Regions from separate parts of the Homo sapiens genome. Here region 2 is linked to region 1. A link means that fine-mapping ties the variant in region 1 to the expression of a gene that starts in the linked region. Tissue or cell type: whole blood. Region 1 holds a variant in brackets; the other region holds the start of a gene. All regions are shown on one strand. Distances are between the middles of the regions.

Region 1 (8,184 bases):
ATCTCTCGCAAGAAAAAATTCAAGGCAAATCCAGAGTAAGGTGAAAAGCAAGTTTATTAGAGAAGTGAAGAAATAAAAGAATGGCTACCCGATAGGCAAAGCAGCCCCAAGGGCTGCTGGTCGGCTATTTTTATGGTTGTTTCTTGATTTTATGCTAAACAAGGAGTAGATAATTAATGAGTTTTCCCGGAAAGGGGTGGGCAATTCCCAGAACTGAGGGCTCCTCCCCTTTTTAGACTATATAAGGTAGACATTGCCATGGCATCTGTAAACTGTCATGGCACTGGTGGGAGTGTCTTCTAGCATGCTAATGCATTGTAATTGGCGTATAATGAGCAGTGAGGATGACCAGAGGTCACTTTTCTCTCCATCATGGTTTGGGTAGGTTTTGGACAGCCTCTTTACCGCATCCTTTTATCAGCAAGGCCTTTGTGACCTGTACTTTGTGCCAACCTCCTATCTCATCCTGTGACTTAGAAAGCCTTTATTTCTAGGAATGCAGCTCAGTAGGTGTCAGCCTCATTTTACCCAGCCTCTATTCAAGATGGAGTCGCTCTAGTTCAAGCATCTCTGACAATTTTGATTGTCTACTGTTGGCCGGGCATAGTGGCTCAAGCCTGGAATCCCAGCACTTTGGGAGGACAGGGCAGGTGGATCACTTGAGCTTAGGAATTTGAAACCAGCCTGGCCAACATCGTGAACCCCCCCGTCTCTACTACAAATACAAAAATTAGCCAGGCTTGGTGGCAGGCACCTCTAGTCCCAGCTACTTGGGAGGCTGAGGCAGGAGAATCAGTTGAACCCGGGAGGTGGAGGTTGCAGTGAGCTGAGATCGTGCCACTGCACTCCAGCCTGGGCAACAGAGCAAGACTCCATCTCCAAAAAAAAAAAAGTCTTCTGTAGGGATACAAATGATTGAGTTTCGTATGTTCATCTCTACACAAGAAGCTATAGGATGAAATATCAGAGAATAAATTTTAATAACCAAGGTTGAATGGACAGAGAAGGCCAAAAAGTTTCAAGGAAAAGCAAAGCACTTAGAAACGTTTCCTAGTACATTTTCAACCACATTTCAAACGTCTCCTACATAAAGCAACACAGGAGAATTTTCTATCCAGTGGTGGCCAAGGTTTTTCTCTTCCTGTGGGCATGCCATCTTCCTCACAAAGAACCAAAAATACACAACTGTGGGTCCGCTTCCTCCACTCACTGCCAACCCACCCCCTTGTTTTGCATTTGATGCTGTGAAGTTCAGAGTTAACTTGCTTGGTCAACCATAGCAAGCTTGCAGTGCATTATCCGTATTCTCTTCTCCCACCTACCTGATTCGGTTTTCGCTTTTGTTCATGTTTTAAATTTGGGTTTCCTATAAACTCCCAGGAAGCAAGGCAAGGAGGGAGAAGAAAATATTTCTAAGTATCTGGGACACTAGTTGGTACAAAACAGGTTCGAAGGAGATTGTTCCTTCACATTCCTGAGACTCCCAAGGACAAGGTCAATCAGATCTGCTCCCCTTCTCCCTCCCCGCTCCCCGCTCCTGCCCCCAGCCTAGGTTCAGTGGAGACCATGTTATCCCTACTGACCGCCAGCCTTTCCGCTCTGGGGCTGGACTTCTCTCCCTAAGTCACCTCTGACTTCTCAGCCAGCAACTCTGTTCTTTCCGGCTGCCAGGGACAGACAGGACGTGAATCCTTTCATTGTAAAGACAGAAGTATTTTCTTGAGTTTCTTTTTTCTTTTTGAGTCTTTGGAAGGAGAAAAGGAAGGAACCTTCTTTCAAGGCCTGAAACAGTTTTAAAAGTTGCGTGCTCATGGCAAACAGCATTTCTCATTCTGTTTATGTGTTTTCTGCCCCACAATTCTGAATGACTCAGATGACAAAAAAAACAATCCAGGCCTGGGGGAGGGGCACCCGCAGGGGTGGTTGTTGCTTTTCATATTGTGAGGCATAAATGATACAAAATGCCAAAAGAAGCTGGAAACCAATTTTAACCTGAACTACAGGTTTGCATTTTTCCCATTTCTCTGCCTTCTCTCTGTCACCTCCATCCCACCCCCACATCCAACTTAGCTTTTCTATTGCAAATAGCAGGGCCCAGGATTTGAATGAAAGCAGAAGCTGTTTCCTCTGCTTATGATCTGCAGACAGCTGCATCACAATTTGGGCGACTTTTGCAGACTTGCCACCAATTGTGAAATAAATAACTTATCTGATTTATGCCATTTGAGTAGAAGAAAACTACGAAATAATAGATACAAATAAAGAGGTTTCTTGTTCATTTATGCACAAGAAACCTCTTTATTTGTATCTATTATTTAGTGAAGGCCATAATTAGATGAATAGCTGGACTTTAGATTTTTGTATCTTTAGGCTCGAGCAAGAGTACAATAACAAAGAATTTACAAAAAAAAAAAAAGTAATCAGGACAACCTTGTAGTAGATTTTTGACCCTTGAATAATTCAGAACCCAAAATCTACGAGAGCTACACTCCATCTGAGACAAGGAGAAATGATTCTTTCACTGCAAGAATTTCTAAAAAAATCAACTGACAAATTTTTAGCTGAAAGGGAAATCTCCCATCGAGTTTATTGAATGATAGTCATTGTTACTTAAAACAGACTCTCGTGTTCGGTTCTGATTGCAGGGTTGTGCAGTTTTTCTGTTTTTAAAACTGATGGCATTCAACGTGGCACAGGAAAGAATTCTCCCAGCCATTTTCATAATTATCTACATTTAAATTCTCCCCTTAATAAAGAAGTCCTTTTTTCCCTCAGCATCCTTATTCTTTAATAGCATTTTACCTGATTGCAAAAGTAACACCTGTGCATTGTAAACATTTTGGAAAATCCTGAAAATCACAGGGAAGAAATATACAAATCATTTGTTTCTCCAGCACCTACCAATAACTATTAATCACATTTTAATGTTTAGTCTTCTAGTCTGTACTTCTCAATATGAAAATATTCACATTCTTCACAAAAATAAGAATATGACATTTTTGCTTTTTCACAAACCATTAAAAATCTTCACCATCCTGGTTGCAAGTAGATGCCATCCGATGCTGCACCATAATTTTTTCCACGGATTCTTTCCTCCTGGGCATTTGGGCTTTTCCGGGTGGCTCCATGAACAATGGAGTTCATGGTTATAGTCATGAAGAACATAGAGTCTAATTCAACTCACCCTAATGTGACACTTCTACCCCTGTGACCAAGAATTCTCCTGGCGGGGAAAACATAACAGGAAAATATTTCACACACTTTTGGGTGAGGGTTGGCTAAACTAGACTTTAGTGCAATGATTAACATTTCAATGGTGAACTCCTCATTGGCTAGGTATACGTTCAAGCAGCCAACCAAGAAGGGGGAAAGTTCTCTCTTGAGCTTTAAACATATATTCTCTATGAAGTTACGCCTTCCCTCATTCCCTAAGAGTAAGGAAAGCTCTTTTGAACTTTTATATTCCTTTTTTGCTCTGAACTCCGTTATAATGTTTCTCTCAATTGTCCCTTTTTCCATAAAACTTTCACCCACTTTCCCCTCGGCCATCTCGATTAGCCCAGGCCCCCACAACACCGGATCTGCTCCTGTCCTGGGGTAACCATCATTATCTGTTATCTTAGGGCTATTTTAAACAAACCCCTTTTATCTTTTCTCCCAGTTTTTTTCTTTTTTCCTCCATTAGAGTTTATGTCTGATTCAACTTGGTAGCCCCACACAGTAGGCACTCAATAAATATTTGTCGAATGATTCTTTCAAGGCATCTCGGTCACAAAACTTTTTCTGCATTTAGGTCTCTCACAGGCTGGAGGCCACAGTTTAACAAAGCCAGGGCAAGGTCAGAGGGAGGCCGAGAAGGCGCTTTCAAGTTGAGTAATGAAAGGCGATGTTAATTACTGACATGGGCCATTTAGAAGGAAGAAAAATGCTATCTCTTATTAATTTTGCTGAAATGGACACACTCTTGTCAGTGGCTAATGGTTAACAAAGCCATTCTTTGCTAAAGGACAGGGCAGGAAAA[C/G]CTCAGTTACGAAAGGACCAGAGCAGCCACAGTGCAGAAACTTCCTGCCCCTACACGCCTGCACCCGCCAGAGATAACGTCTTTCACCATTTTTTCCCCATGTATAAAGTTAGACGGAAAACCATCAAGGAGAGGTTAAAAGTTGCATTTCTACCAAGATGTTTATGATGGGCTTACAGGGAAGCCAGGCTCCGGCAAAGGACACAGGAATCAAGTTTACATTTTAATGGAGGGAGGCGGGAGGTGGAAAGAGGAAAAAAAGTCAGCTTGTGGAGTGGGAATTCCTCATCCTGTTAGTGGGTAACACTAATTCAATCAAGAAGAAAGGGTTTGTTGAACAGACGCTCTCCCTGCGATTTCAGCCTGCCGGATCATCTTGGTGGAAGTTCATAAATGCGTCTGAAATGCTCCCAGCCTTTCAGTCTGAACACGCGGTTTTGGCAGTTGTGAACTTCAAGTAGACCTATTTAAGCTGATCAGAGGAAACAGGCTGACAGTGAGCTGATTAGAAACCTCTTAGGGACCCTTCTTTAAAGAGGGAAAGGAGTTATTTTTTTCCATCATCTTTAGAGACCCAGGGGTGGGTAATAAAAAAGAAAGGTTGCAAGTGGGGTGGGAGTGGGGGTTGTGGGGGAAAGGAAAACATCCATTTTAGAACACGAAGAAAAACAACTGCTTTGCCAGCCCTTTCCCAACCTCCTCGCTCTTGTCAATTTCTGCTTTGAGGGAATGTTTGAAGATAACAGGAAAGGAAATCATGAAATGATATGGCAAGGATGAGTGAGGCTTAAAGAGACGAACACAAGCTGTTTCCTTGACCCAGGCTTATCTCAAGCCTGCCAAAAAAATAACCATCTATCACAGACCCATAAATAGGTTAGGAACATGAGAGTAAAATGCTGCTTTTAATGATAAAGCGATTGGTGAGTTAGTTTAGAAAACAACCATCTCAGACATCTTAGGCTTAACAGATGCACACAAAGGTATACTTTTGTCTCCAGGGGTGGGAGGTGGGGGCAAGTTCTTGAACAAGCTGAATGTGTTTTAGGAAGCAGGAGCTCCACTTGAGAAAAGTTATAAACATGAACATTCAGAAAGAACATTTCAAAACCTCTCTGGGGAAAATAGGAGTTGCTGACAATAATACACATGCAGGGAGCGATTCCACTGCAAAATCTAAATGAGTGAGAAAGCTACCTCTTTGCTAGCCGCAAAGCCTTATCAGCAACAAAAAGTTCAGGTTAAGAATTTGCTTTCCAAACCGATACCCCACAGTTGACCTAAAATAGAGCAGGCAGTCAGGTTTCTCGTTGGGGCCCTTGAGAAAAAGTCTGCAAACCTGATCCCTGCTGAAATACTCCAGGAAGAACCAGATTCTCTGGGTTACAGCCCTTAAGATCACAATAGGAGTTTCCATTCCAGACCTTCAACTGAAAATGAAGTTTACAAATTAGCTTTGAATAAATATTATGCTTCCAGTCTCCAGTGAAGAGCCACAGCTCTGAGAGAAACCAAATTAGAAAAAGACGCGATTCAGCTCCCAAACACACAGAACCAAGCCCAAGCCAACCTAGCCTGGCATGTTTCTCTTCTTGCGCTACCAAAATAGCATGGTGATGTCATGCTTTCATTCGTCCCCCAAAACCAGCCACCCTGCCCTCCTAAAAATAGCTTGATGCACTTTTAAAGGGAAAAAAGGGGGAGTCAAAATATTTTTTGAAATAAACTTTTTTTCACTTAAACCGTCAAGCAATAAAAGACTATCTTTTCTTTCCTGTTTACTTTGTCTCCCAGACTCTGTGTGTGTGTGTGTGTGTGTGTGTGTGTGTTTCCCAAAGTCCCTCTGAAAATCATACAAGAAGGAAAAGCCTTTTCCAAAATAATTTATGTAGTCTGACTTCTGAGGCCTTCTCGTGTTTGTAAATTTTCTCTTTGTTCTTTGCCAGTGAATGAACCAGACTCAGGATTAACCAAGGACTTATTTAGGAGTCCTCTGAAAAATATAAGCATATTTGTAGGGAAGAGGACCGACTTAAAGAGACTGCTAGACATCAGGGACATAGATCAGTGATTCTCGAGGCTGTTTGAGCCTCCAGACACTTGTAACACTTTGAGATACGAAAGCTTTGGACTCACTAGGGACCTGAAGAATCATTTAAGTAAGGCCCAACCATCTGCATCATTCAAAAGAAACCCAAGGTAGCCATGTGTGGGGGCTCATACCTGTAATCCCAGCACGTTCAGTGGCTGAGGTGGGAAGATCCAGGTCAGGAGTCTGAGATCAGCCTGGGCGACATGTGGAAATCCTGTCTATACTAAAAATACGAAAAAAAAAAAAAAAATTAGCCAGCCATGGTGGCAAGTGCCTATAATCTCAGCTACTCAAGAGGCTGAGGCAGGAGAATTGCTTGAACCCGGGAGGCAGAAGTTGCAGGGAGGCAGAGGTTGCAGTGAGCCAAGATTTTGCACCACTGCACTCCAGTCTGGGCGACAGAGTGAGACTTCATCTCAAAAATAAAAAAAAAATAAAAGAAGTTAGCTGGGCATGGTGGCATGCACCTGTAGTCCTAGCTACTCAGGAGGCTGAGGCAGGAGGATCACTTAAAAGGCCAGGAATCCAAGGCTGCAGTGAGCCATGATCATGCCACTGCACTCTAGCCTGGGCAACAGGGCAAGAAAAAGGAGTAGGGAGCTTGGAGGGAGGTGGCGATGGTTAATGGGTACCAAAAAAAAAAAAATGAGTAAGACATACTATTTGATTGCACAACAGGGCAACTATAGTCAATAGCAATTTAATATACATTTCTAAATAACTAAAAGAGTATAATTGGGTTGTTTGTAACACATAGGATAGATGTTTGAGAGGATGGATACCCCATTCTTCATAAATTGCCTGCCTGTATCAAAACATCTCATGTACCCTGCAAATATGTACACCTACTATGTGCCCACAAAAATTTTAAAATACATTTTTAAATTAAAAGGAACCCAGGTGACTCCGAGGCTTATTCAGCATTAGGAAGCACCCATCAGACTTGGCATGAAGGCCGATGTTCCAAAGAGCAAGCTCTCATGTCCCTCTCCCCACACCAAAAAGCAGTACCTTGTCCCAGCTCTTCTGGACACAGCCAACACCAGCTATTCCAGCTAGATTCATGATTTCAGAACATCCCTTAAAGTAACTTAGCATCTCTCCCACTTCCTTCATTTCTCATAAATTGCTATAGGTTGCCTTTGATCTCGGAGTAGACTCCCTATAAAAAGGAGGCAAAGTAACTGAGATGAAAAACAAACTTTGCCCAAGAATCCAATAAAAGATGAGTGGAGAGGGTTGCTGCCAGAGATAGGAGATTTCATTCACTAAGTCTTAAGACAGAGGCAGGGTAATGGTTAATCACTTGTTTGAGTCAAACTTACCCCCTAGTTAGGAAGGCTGGCTGTCATTTACCTGAGGGTTACATTAGAACAAAAACAAGTCCAAAAAAAAGATGGTTTCTAAGAATAAAAATATCTCTCTTTCTGGGGTCTTCTTAACTTTGTCAGAGTGCTTCCACATCTATTGTCTGTTTTTATAACTAATCCCGTAAGTAACTACATATTTGTTTGTTTTGTTTTCTTTTGAGACAGAGTCTCACTCTGTCTCCTGGGCTGGAGTGCAGTGGTGCGATCTCGGCTCCCTGCAACCTCCGCCTCCTGGGCTCAAGCAATTCTCATGCCCCAGCCTGATGAATAACTGGGATTACAGGTGCAGGCCACCATGCTGGCCTACTTTTTCTATTTTTGGTAGAGATGGGGTCTCACCATGTTGCCCAGGCTGGTCTCGAACTCCTGGCCTCAAGTGATCCACCTGCCTCAGCCTCCCAAAGTGCTGATTACAGGCGTGAGCCGCCGCATCCGGTGATATTTGTATATAAGATCTATTAACCAGCCTGTAATCCCAGCACTTTGGGAGGCTGAGGTGGGCGGATCACGAGGTCAGAAGATCGAGACCATCCTGGCGAACACAGTGAAACCCTGTCTCTACTAAAAATACAAAAAAATTAGCTGGGCGTGGTGGTGGGTGCCTATAGTCCCAGCTACTCGGGAGGCTGAGGCAGGAGAATGGCATGAACCCAGGAGGTGGAGCTTGCAGTGAGCGGAGATCGCACCACTGCACTCCAGCC
Region 2 (8,184 bases), 130 kb after region 1:
AACATTGCAAAACTATCTGAAGAAGCTTACAAACGCATTTGTTTACAGACTGTCATTACTGAGATGTAATGGCCTTTTAATGTCTTCAAAATGTTGAAAAAACAGGCAAAACCTATTATGTAGACAGACATCTAATGCTCAGACATAAAAGCCACTCAATCAAGATGCATCTTTGCATCCAGCCAGGCTTCTCCCTCTGGTGTCTCTAATTACATTAACAACAAAATCAATAGCAGACATACAAAGTCGTGGCTGTCACAAGTCTATAGATCAGGCAGGCATTCTGGTTAGAAACGGCTTCCACCTACCTGAGGCCTCACCCCTGGGAGGAGAGAGAACATCGTGCAGCCCTCTGTAATTGCACATGTCTTCATGACAGCATTCCAATGTGGGTATGGTGGTGCCAGAGTGGTTTCGGGCCTGTTTGGCTTGGCAGATGTCTGTCGTGCTTGCAAGAGAGTCCAGGCAGCCATGGGTGAGTGGGGAATTTGAGTTCTGAGGATCAAGAAGTCTAGAGAAGCAGGCGCTGAGCTCAGATTTACACATATAACCAGTGGCTACACAGTGGGCAGCATCACAGTAGCATCGAATTTCACCTGAAAACAATGAGAAACCACCTCAAACTCTGCTCCAGAGACCAGATAAAGCAACTATTTAGGCAACTGCTAAATCCCAAATTCAAAGGCATGAACTTTTAGATCATCCAAGCTGAGGGCTCCAGTCTACAGAGCCTGGAGAAGCCCTTCCTGCAGCCAGTGCGTAAGTTTCAATCCAGTTAAACGTCATTTTGGCAATGTAGTAATCCCAATAGCAGGTTTCTGAGGAGTTTAGAGTCATTTTAAAAAAACTTTTGCTTTTTGAAGGAAATAGTAATGAGTATAATTTCTCCTACCATAAGGTATAACACATTATTTATTCATTTTAATCCTACATGACCATACAACATAAAAATGTTAGGCTTTTTGATTTTGTCAGTATAAATATTTGATCGGAACTACTGAATTGTTTACTATCCCACAGGACTGCACCAAGAGTTAAGAGCTTTAGCTAACACCTTATAAAGTTATTAACTAGAAACACAACAATCTAGAAACTGCCCAGGTCAGGAGGTTTTAAAACTATGAAACTAGGCAGCTATTTGCAACCTCTCTAGAAAAGGCAAACTTTTTGCCTATAAAGATCTTTTCATGCAGAGGAGCTTTTAGTCAGTATATTGTAAAACAGGAACTAGGCAGTTTACAATTAGTGGTTTGCTTGCCAAAGTCAATTTCTTTCAGCCCAAATGGAAAGTCATAAAAGGTGGGGGGAGTATAAAACTGCAAGGCTAACTTCTCCTCCTCCTCCTCACAAGTTTTACATGTAATTCGACATGTGATCTAAAAGGGGAAACACTGAAACTGAAAATCCTCTGCTGGTTGAATGAAAAATCCTTAAGGAAACCTCAAATTTTCTACAGGAAGTGATTAAAAGTTTCCTTTATAAAAACTTATTTTGTGAGTTGCATGGCTCCGTTCACATTTTGTCGCAGGGCAAGATTGGAGGCTTTAATATCAGTTTCTCGTTGAAATAATCTGGGTCTTCAAGTTCTCACTAATACAATATCCACCTAGTGGACCCTGGTCGCTGTCACATGCCACAGCGAGTAAACTAAACTAATGCACACGCCTCTTCCAGTTTCCCGTCTGAAGATCCGAAACCTCCACTCTGAAATTAAACACCGGGATCTGCTGTTTTACAAACCTCTTCCCACCCTTACCTTTATTCTTCCCCCTCTCTCTGAACGCCCCAGTAAGGTGTCTCATTTAATTATCTGTCCAAATTCCAGACCACGGTATTGTATGCTCAGTTTTCACCGGACGCTGCTAATGCTTCGGTTCTAAGGAAAACCAGCCCGCTAAACACAGATCTTTGGCAACCCTTAACAGTCCAAAGCTAGGGGTCTTGCTCCTAAATCTGCACTGGTTGGGCCCAAGTTCCTTCTCTGCTTCAAGTAAGAACCTTGCTTTGCAGAACCACTTCTCTGCTCTTTCTCCTCCTCCCTCCAAGCTCACTTTATTTTCCACATAAAGCTCACCAGTCTTCTGGGGTGATGACTACATATCCCTAGTTTGACAAATTCCATATATAGATTTAAAGTATAAATAAAACAGATTAAAAGCCCATTTTGACCCTATTAGCTTCAGACCTTGTACAGAAAAGGAAGACTGAATACAAGTAAAATGCTGCTTAAATGTTTATGAGAGCCTATTTTCAATGACCTAAAAACAGCCTAATAAAATTTTGACAGGTAACTGGGAAAGTTCTAACTACCTTTTTTTTTTAATTGGAGCCACATTTTAAGCAAGGAGAATGGACTTTTGTACCACTGTATTAAAACTATATTTCTGTCGTTCATAAAGTTTCTTCCTGTGGCATGCAAAAGGCCAGAAAGGGGACTGGTATTTTGAAACTGTGGAACAATGCCCTTCTGTTTCTGTCCCCTTCTCGTTACTGTATGTAGTGATTAAACAAAAATGTCTGCTTTAGTCAAGATGGCTACAGGAGAGACTGCTGGCTTCTTTTAAAGCTTTTGAAGTCCGCAGCCGTCAGAAATCTCTGATCCCCTAATTATATCATTATCAGGCACATAGTTTCGGTATCTGTGACTTCATGTCAGCCTCAGTCCCTCCCTGTTCTGCCCGCCTTTGATAGGGCCAGGAGGCTCCCCTCTGCAAGCCACAAGGGCTGTTATTTAGGGTTAATTACACCCTTCCTTCCAAAATAAATAAATACTGTAGCACATCATCCTCGCTGGGCTAGCTTATGCTTTAACCTCATGCCTGCTACATAGCAATTAAAGAGAAGTAGGGGGCTGCAAAGACTAAACTGCTTCCTACTTAAAAAAATTATCTGTTCACAGAACAGTAGGTAGATTTCACAGCAGGGAGGTGAGGAGAACCTTGAAATTCGGAGACAGTTCGGGTTATTTCTTTCTAAAAGGTGAAAGCCTGCAGAGGAAAGAAGAAACTGACCCGCTGCCTTTTTTTTTTTTTTGGTCCTGTTTGTAAAATATGAGGTGAGTGGCAGTGAGACGCTGACAGAGCCTACTCCTCCCGGCTGCTGAAAAGCAACACAACACACACTTCTGCACACCTCGGACACCTAAACTCTCAGGGAGACCCACACACTCGCTCGCACACAGAGAGATGTACGCAGAGACACACTCACACAGAGACTCAGATGCACATTCAGAGATACAAAGACACTTAGAGACAGACACAGAAATGCATTCAGAAAGACACACTCAAGATCAGAGATACAGAGACTCACACATTCAGAGACACAAAGACTCAGAAAGAGACACAGAAATGCATTCAGAGATACATTCAAAGAGACACAGAGATACGCTGAGTGATACAGAGGTTCAGACACACTTTCAGAAACACAACGACACTCAGAGACACAAAAATGCATTTAGGGATACTGAGACTCAGAGACACACTCACAGAAATACACCCTGAGGCACTCACACAGACACGCTGAGGGCACGCGGCAGCTACAGGCCAGGATCTGCGATTCCTCCCGGCCGCCCGAGCCCCCAGGGTGCGGAAGCGGCGGCGTCGAGGCCGAGACTCCGGCCCCGCTCCCCGCTGGGCTGCAAACGCGCCGCTCCCCGCAGGCAGAGCCAGGAGGACCCTCTGATCAGCGCCTGCCCTTAGATCGGAGTCCGCATCCACGCGCCAGGCCACCGCCGCGACTTCTAAGAACACAGCAACTTGTCGCGACCTGCGGCTCCGGCGCAGGAGGGAGCCTCGCCTGCCGCTAACAAAGCCTCTGCAGCCGGCTCCAAAGCCCCGCGGCGAGGACGGGACCCCGGGCCCCGTGCGCCCCCGGCACCCACCTTTGGTGAGCAGCACGGCCATGGCGCAGAGCTCCAGCTGCAGCCAGATGAAGATGTAGCTGGAGTGGCGATCCATTGACGCCCCGCACGGCCGCGGCGCCCCCGCCGGCTTCCGGAGCCCCGGCTCGGCGGCAGCCTACGACCCCCGGAGCGCGCAGGGCATGGGCCCTGCCCGGAGCGGCGGGCGCCGTCAGCGGCGGGGCTGGGTTTCGGGCCGCTGCCGGAGCATGGAGCGCGGCTACAGGGCGCGCCCAGGAGCCCAGAAAAGTTTCCCGGTCCCCCGTCGGCGGCCACTGGCTCCCTTGCCCCGCTCGACTCTAGGGACGCACGCTAGCCCCGGGTCGGGAGTGGGCTCCCGGCCTTCAGTCCCCGCTAGCGGCCGTTCTCAGCGAAGAGAGTAGGGTCTCCACAGCACGCAAGGGTATCCGCCGCAGCTCCCGCCCGCGCCAGCCCAGGTCTCTCCGGCTCCGCGCCGTAAATAGCGCCCCGCGCCGGGAGCCGGCCTGCACCGCCCCGCCTCGCCCCGCCCCACGGCGTCCGATTGGCCGCCGGGCTCCTGTCAATCCGCCCCGCAGCGGGGGGCGGGCCCAGACGCGAGCGCTGGGGGACCTGCCCGGCGGCTCCGAGCGGCGCCGGCGTCTGGGGCGCCCGGCTGGGGCGCCCGGCTGGTGCGCTGCCGTCTCCCGCGCTCCCCCTTGCGGAGGCCTGCGCGTCAGTGACCTTCGCGAGGCGCCGGGGGAGCCCAGCCCCGGGACCGGCTCGGGAACCCGCCTCCGAGACCCTGACGGCTCAGCCTCGGGTGGTCAGCGTTCCCCAGCGCGGGGCTTCTTTTGGGTGCCCCCCGAAACACGCAGGGGGTCCGTGTGGTCGTCCTCCCCGGCCGCACTGCGTTTTCTGGAACCCCCAGGGGCGAGTGACAATGCCCCGGCCTGTGCAGGTGGCGGAGGAGGGTTCGGGTGGGAGCCCGGGGGAGGCGGCCCAGCGCTGGGGTCTGCATTCAGCCTTCGCCCCCCACCCCCTCAGCGTGTCCGCCTCGAGCTGCCCGCCATGGGATCAATAAAGCCCAGACAGACTGACTGTTGATCCGTTAGGAGCCGCTAGGTTCTCCCGGGTACGCGGGACGAGTAGCGGGCTAGAGACACTTAACGAAAATTAGCAAATCCAAAAGCACCCGGCGCCAACGAGACGACACTGGCCGAGACTGACACTCAATTAACCACCCCCCAAACAATGGCTGGCAAACACGCCGGCTGACCCTGATCAATATCAGCCCCGCAGTGATCTCCTCCTTGAGATGCTAATTCATTTATTAGGGATCGCGGGGCTGCCCTTCCCAAGGTACTCAAGGTGGTCTTGCTGTAGTTTTGTTTCCCCCTCCGCTTTGGAAGGAATTAAGGTTAAAACTCATTATCTGAGGGAATGTTCTTTTATCCTCTCCCTCCAAAACCTGAGATGAACAAAAGTCGACCATTTGCAAAATTCTTCTTGAGAATCTGCCAGAGCTTCCCTACCGGATATGTCAAAAGGGGGTGGGGGGTGGGGAAGGAAAGAAAGAGAAGCACATTTCATGCTAAGGTGAGAATTATAAAGACAAATCCTTTAGGACTAGAGTGCAGACATGAGCTTTGAGACTAAGAAAAATGTACATATGTCTTGAGGACTGAAAGTCAAGGCGAACATATCTCAAACGCCTAACCTTTTAAAGTTGTTGAAAGTCTGCAGAGCTGCAGGATGTAGTTAATGAAATTGTCTTTGAAAAATAATGTTTATGTGCAGAAAAATAAAATAATTTCATAAACTGATGCTCAGACCATTACTTCTCTAGATCAAAATTGCATCTAAAAGGAGAGAAGGAGAAATCCAGTAGAAGTTTTAAAAGAAAATTAAACTGGTTAGGGCACCAGGTAAACAGCAGGTTTCTCAGAAAAGTTTCTCAAGGGGCGTGCTGACAAGGCAGTCCTGGGGCCGAGTTTGATTAGAACTTCCTGGCTACTAGAACCTTGACAAGTTAACAATTGTAAGGGTTTTATGCAGACAAGACTTTTTTTTTTTTTTTTTTTTTTTTTGAGACGAGTCTGGCACTGTCGCCCAGGCTGGAGTACAGTGGCGCGATCTCGGCTCACTGCAACCTTCCGCCTCCCGGGTTCAAGCCATTCTCCTGCCTCAGCCTCCTGAGTAGCTGGGATTACAGGCACCTGTCTCCACGCCTGGCTAATTTCTGTATTTTTATAGAGACGAGGTTTCGCCATGTTGGTCAGGCTGCTCTCGAACTTCCGACCTCGTGATCCGCCCGCCTCGGCCTCCCAAAGTGCTGGGATTTACAGGCGTGAGCCACCGCGCCCAGAGGACAATACTTTTTATGTAATGATTACACTCTCTTTTAGAGTCAATTATTAGCTAAAAGGAAACTTTCAGGGTATGTTAGTTCAACCTGGCCTCCCACCGTAGGCGAGGCTTGCAATGTCTGGGGGTATAAAGATGTCAGAAACTAGATAGTAAATCTCAAAACAATGGAGCTGGACAATAATGGAGATTTATGTGCATGATGTTACAATGCCTAAAAGAAAGAGGTTAACTAGTCTAGGAAGGTAAAGAGAGCCGGTAAAGTCTAGAAGCAATGACATTAAGGATTGGAAGAAGACCATTACAAGCACAGAGGACCACAGGACTTAGGCATGAAATATGATTGTGTAGGTGAGTAGGAGTGGTAAGCAGCGAACAGGTAGTTGGGATGACAAGCAAGTCTTTGTGATTGCAGCATAAAATGTGAAGAAGTGAACAGAGACGTATCAGAAATGAACTATACTTCCCTTTGATACAGATAAATATTTAATGGAAGAGGTCTGGGGAATGTGTTGGTGAAAGTTGCATTCTAGTAGACACTTTCTGAGTGTCTCCCAGCCCAAGTCAGAGAATGTCCCTTTTCCCGGAGTGGGCGTTGGCAACCTGATTAGGAGACTCTGATCTCCTAATCTCTGGCCATAGCTAGTCACATGACCCAGGTTAGGTCAGTTAGATTCTCTCTTCTGTGTCTTTGAGCAGACATGCTGCTCAGTCCCTTGAGGTCATTTCACGGGAGACATAAAAATTTTGCTTTGGGGCAGCTGTAGTCCACCTGTCTGCAGAGGAAGAAAAATAATGAAGATATGCAAAGTGGCAAATACATAAATCCAAATGGATTTCCAGGCACTCAGCGTCACTTCTTGTCCTTAGGTTAATTCAGTAACCTTAATAAAGTCCCCTTTTTACTTAAGGTTCTTTTCCTTGCAACCCAAAGAAACCAAACTAAGATATTTGTATTTTATTGAATTAATGTTGACTTTGAGCACTCCAGGTTGTATATATTTTTTTGTTCCAAGTCCAATTCTGAATAAGAACTTGGGATCCATTTTTTAGACAATGATTTCAACTATTTTGTTTTTATTATTAATGGGCAAACTTTCTAAATGACCAGAAATTAAAGAGAAACAAGTCCGCACTTTATCTAATGGTTCTGGGGAAGACATGGACTTTTCAACTAAATGAATCAGAGTGTTTGAATCAATGTAGAATATCAAAATCAGTTTAGGGATAATGTGTCAATCATAAGGCCATATCAATAGTTGAGAGAATAGGCAACAATTTTAATTCAATTTAACATTCTTAAGGAAAATTGCTTCTCTAGAGAATTTTACTTATGCTTTGCACATAATTCAGTTATTACTTTCCTACATGTAGGTTGATAAGTAGAGGGAAAAAAAATAGTACAATCTACTGTCCTTTTGAAGTTTAAAGCAAGAAATGAAATCAACGACCAAAATTCTTTTTACATCTACAAAGGGATTCCGAAAATACCTAGGAACAAGCTCTCTATACCCAAGAACAGAAAACTGATTCTAGACCTAACTGAAACCGTTAAACAGTAGAATAGTTTTTTATTACCTTCAAACAGCATTCAAGATATAATTTATCCATGGGAGATATATATGTATATATATAGGCGCGAGCCACCATGCCCGACTAATTTTTTAATTTTTTTGTAGAGATGGTGGTCTCCCTATGTTACTGAGGCTGGTCTCAGAATTCCTGGGCTCAAGCAATCCTCCTGCCTGAGCCTCCAAAAGTGCTGGGATTATAGGTGTGAGCCACCATGCTGGCCGTATAGATGTTTTAAAGATTTTAAATGATGTCTTTGAAATTATAGGCTAAACATGTAACTAAATGGCACTAAATTGTGAATGGGAGAGTAGAGAGTTACTTGCTTTTTTTTGCTTTTTTAGAGACGAAGGCCTCCCTCTGTTACTCAGGCTGGAGTACAGCGCTGC

The links. PIP is the estimated chance that this variant, and not a neighbour inherited with it, causes the effect.
Region 2: it holds the start of BAMBI, and the variant in region 1 is fine-mapped to the expression of BAMBI in whole blood (TOPMed, PIP 0.96).

What each region holds. Positions count from the first base shown.
Region 1 is chr10:28,804,199-28,812,382 of GRCh38, reverse strand. It overlaps LINC01517 (long intergenic non-protein coding RNA 1517), which reads right to left. Exons shown (of 4, transcript NR_120652.1): 3 at 6,245-6,336; 4 at 4,164-4,493. Among named protein-coding and RNA genes, the nearest start is that of LINC00837, 12 kb to the right of the region's middle. The variant C/G (reference allele first, on the strand shown) is at 4,022.
Region 2 is chr10:28,673,670-28,681,853 of GRCh38, reverse strand. BAMBI (BMP and activin membrane bound inhibitor) reads right to left here and starts at 4,333. Exons shown (of 3, transcript NM_012342.3): 1 at 3,881-4,333; 2 at 309-596. The coding sequence starts at 3,956. RefSeq lists silencers at 3,436-3,580, 4,306-4,865.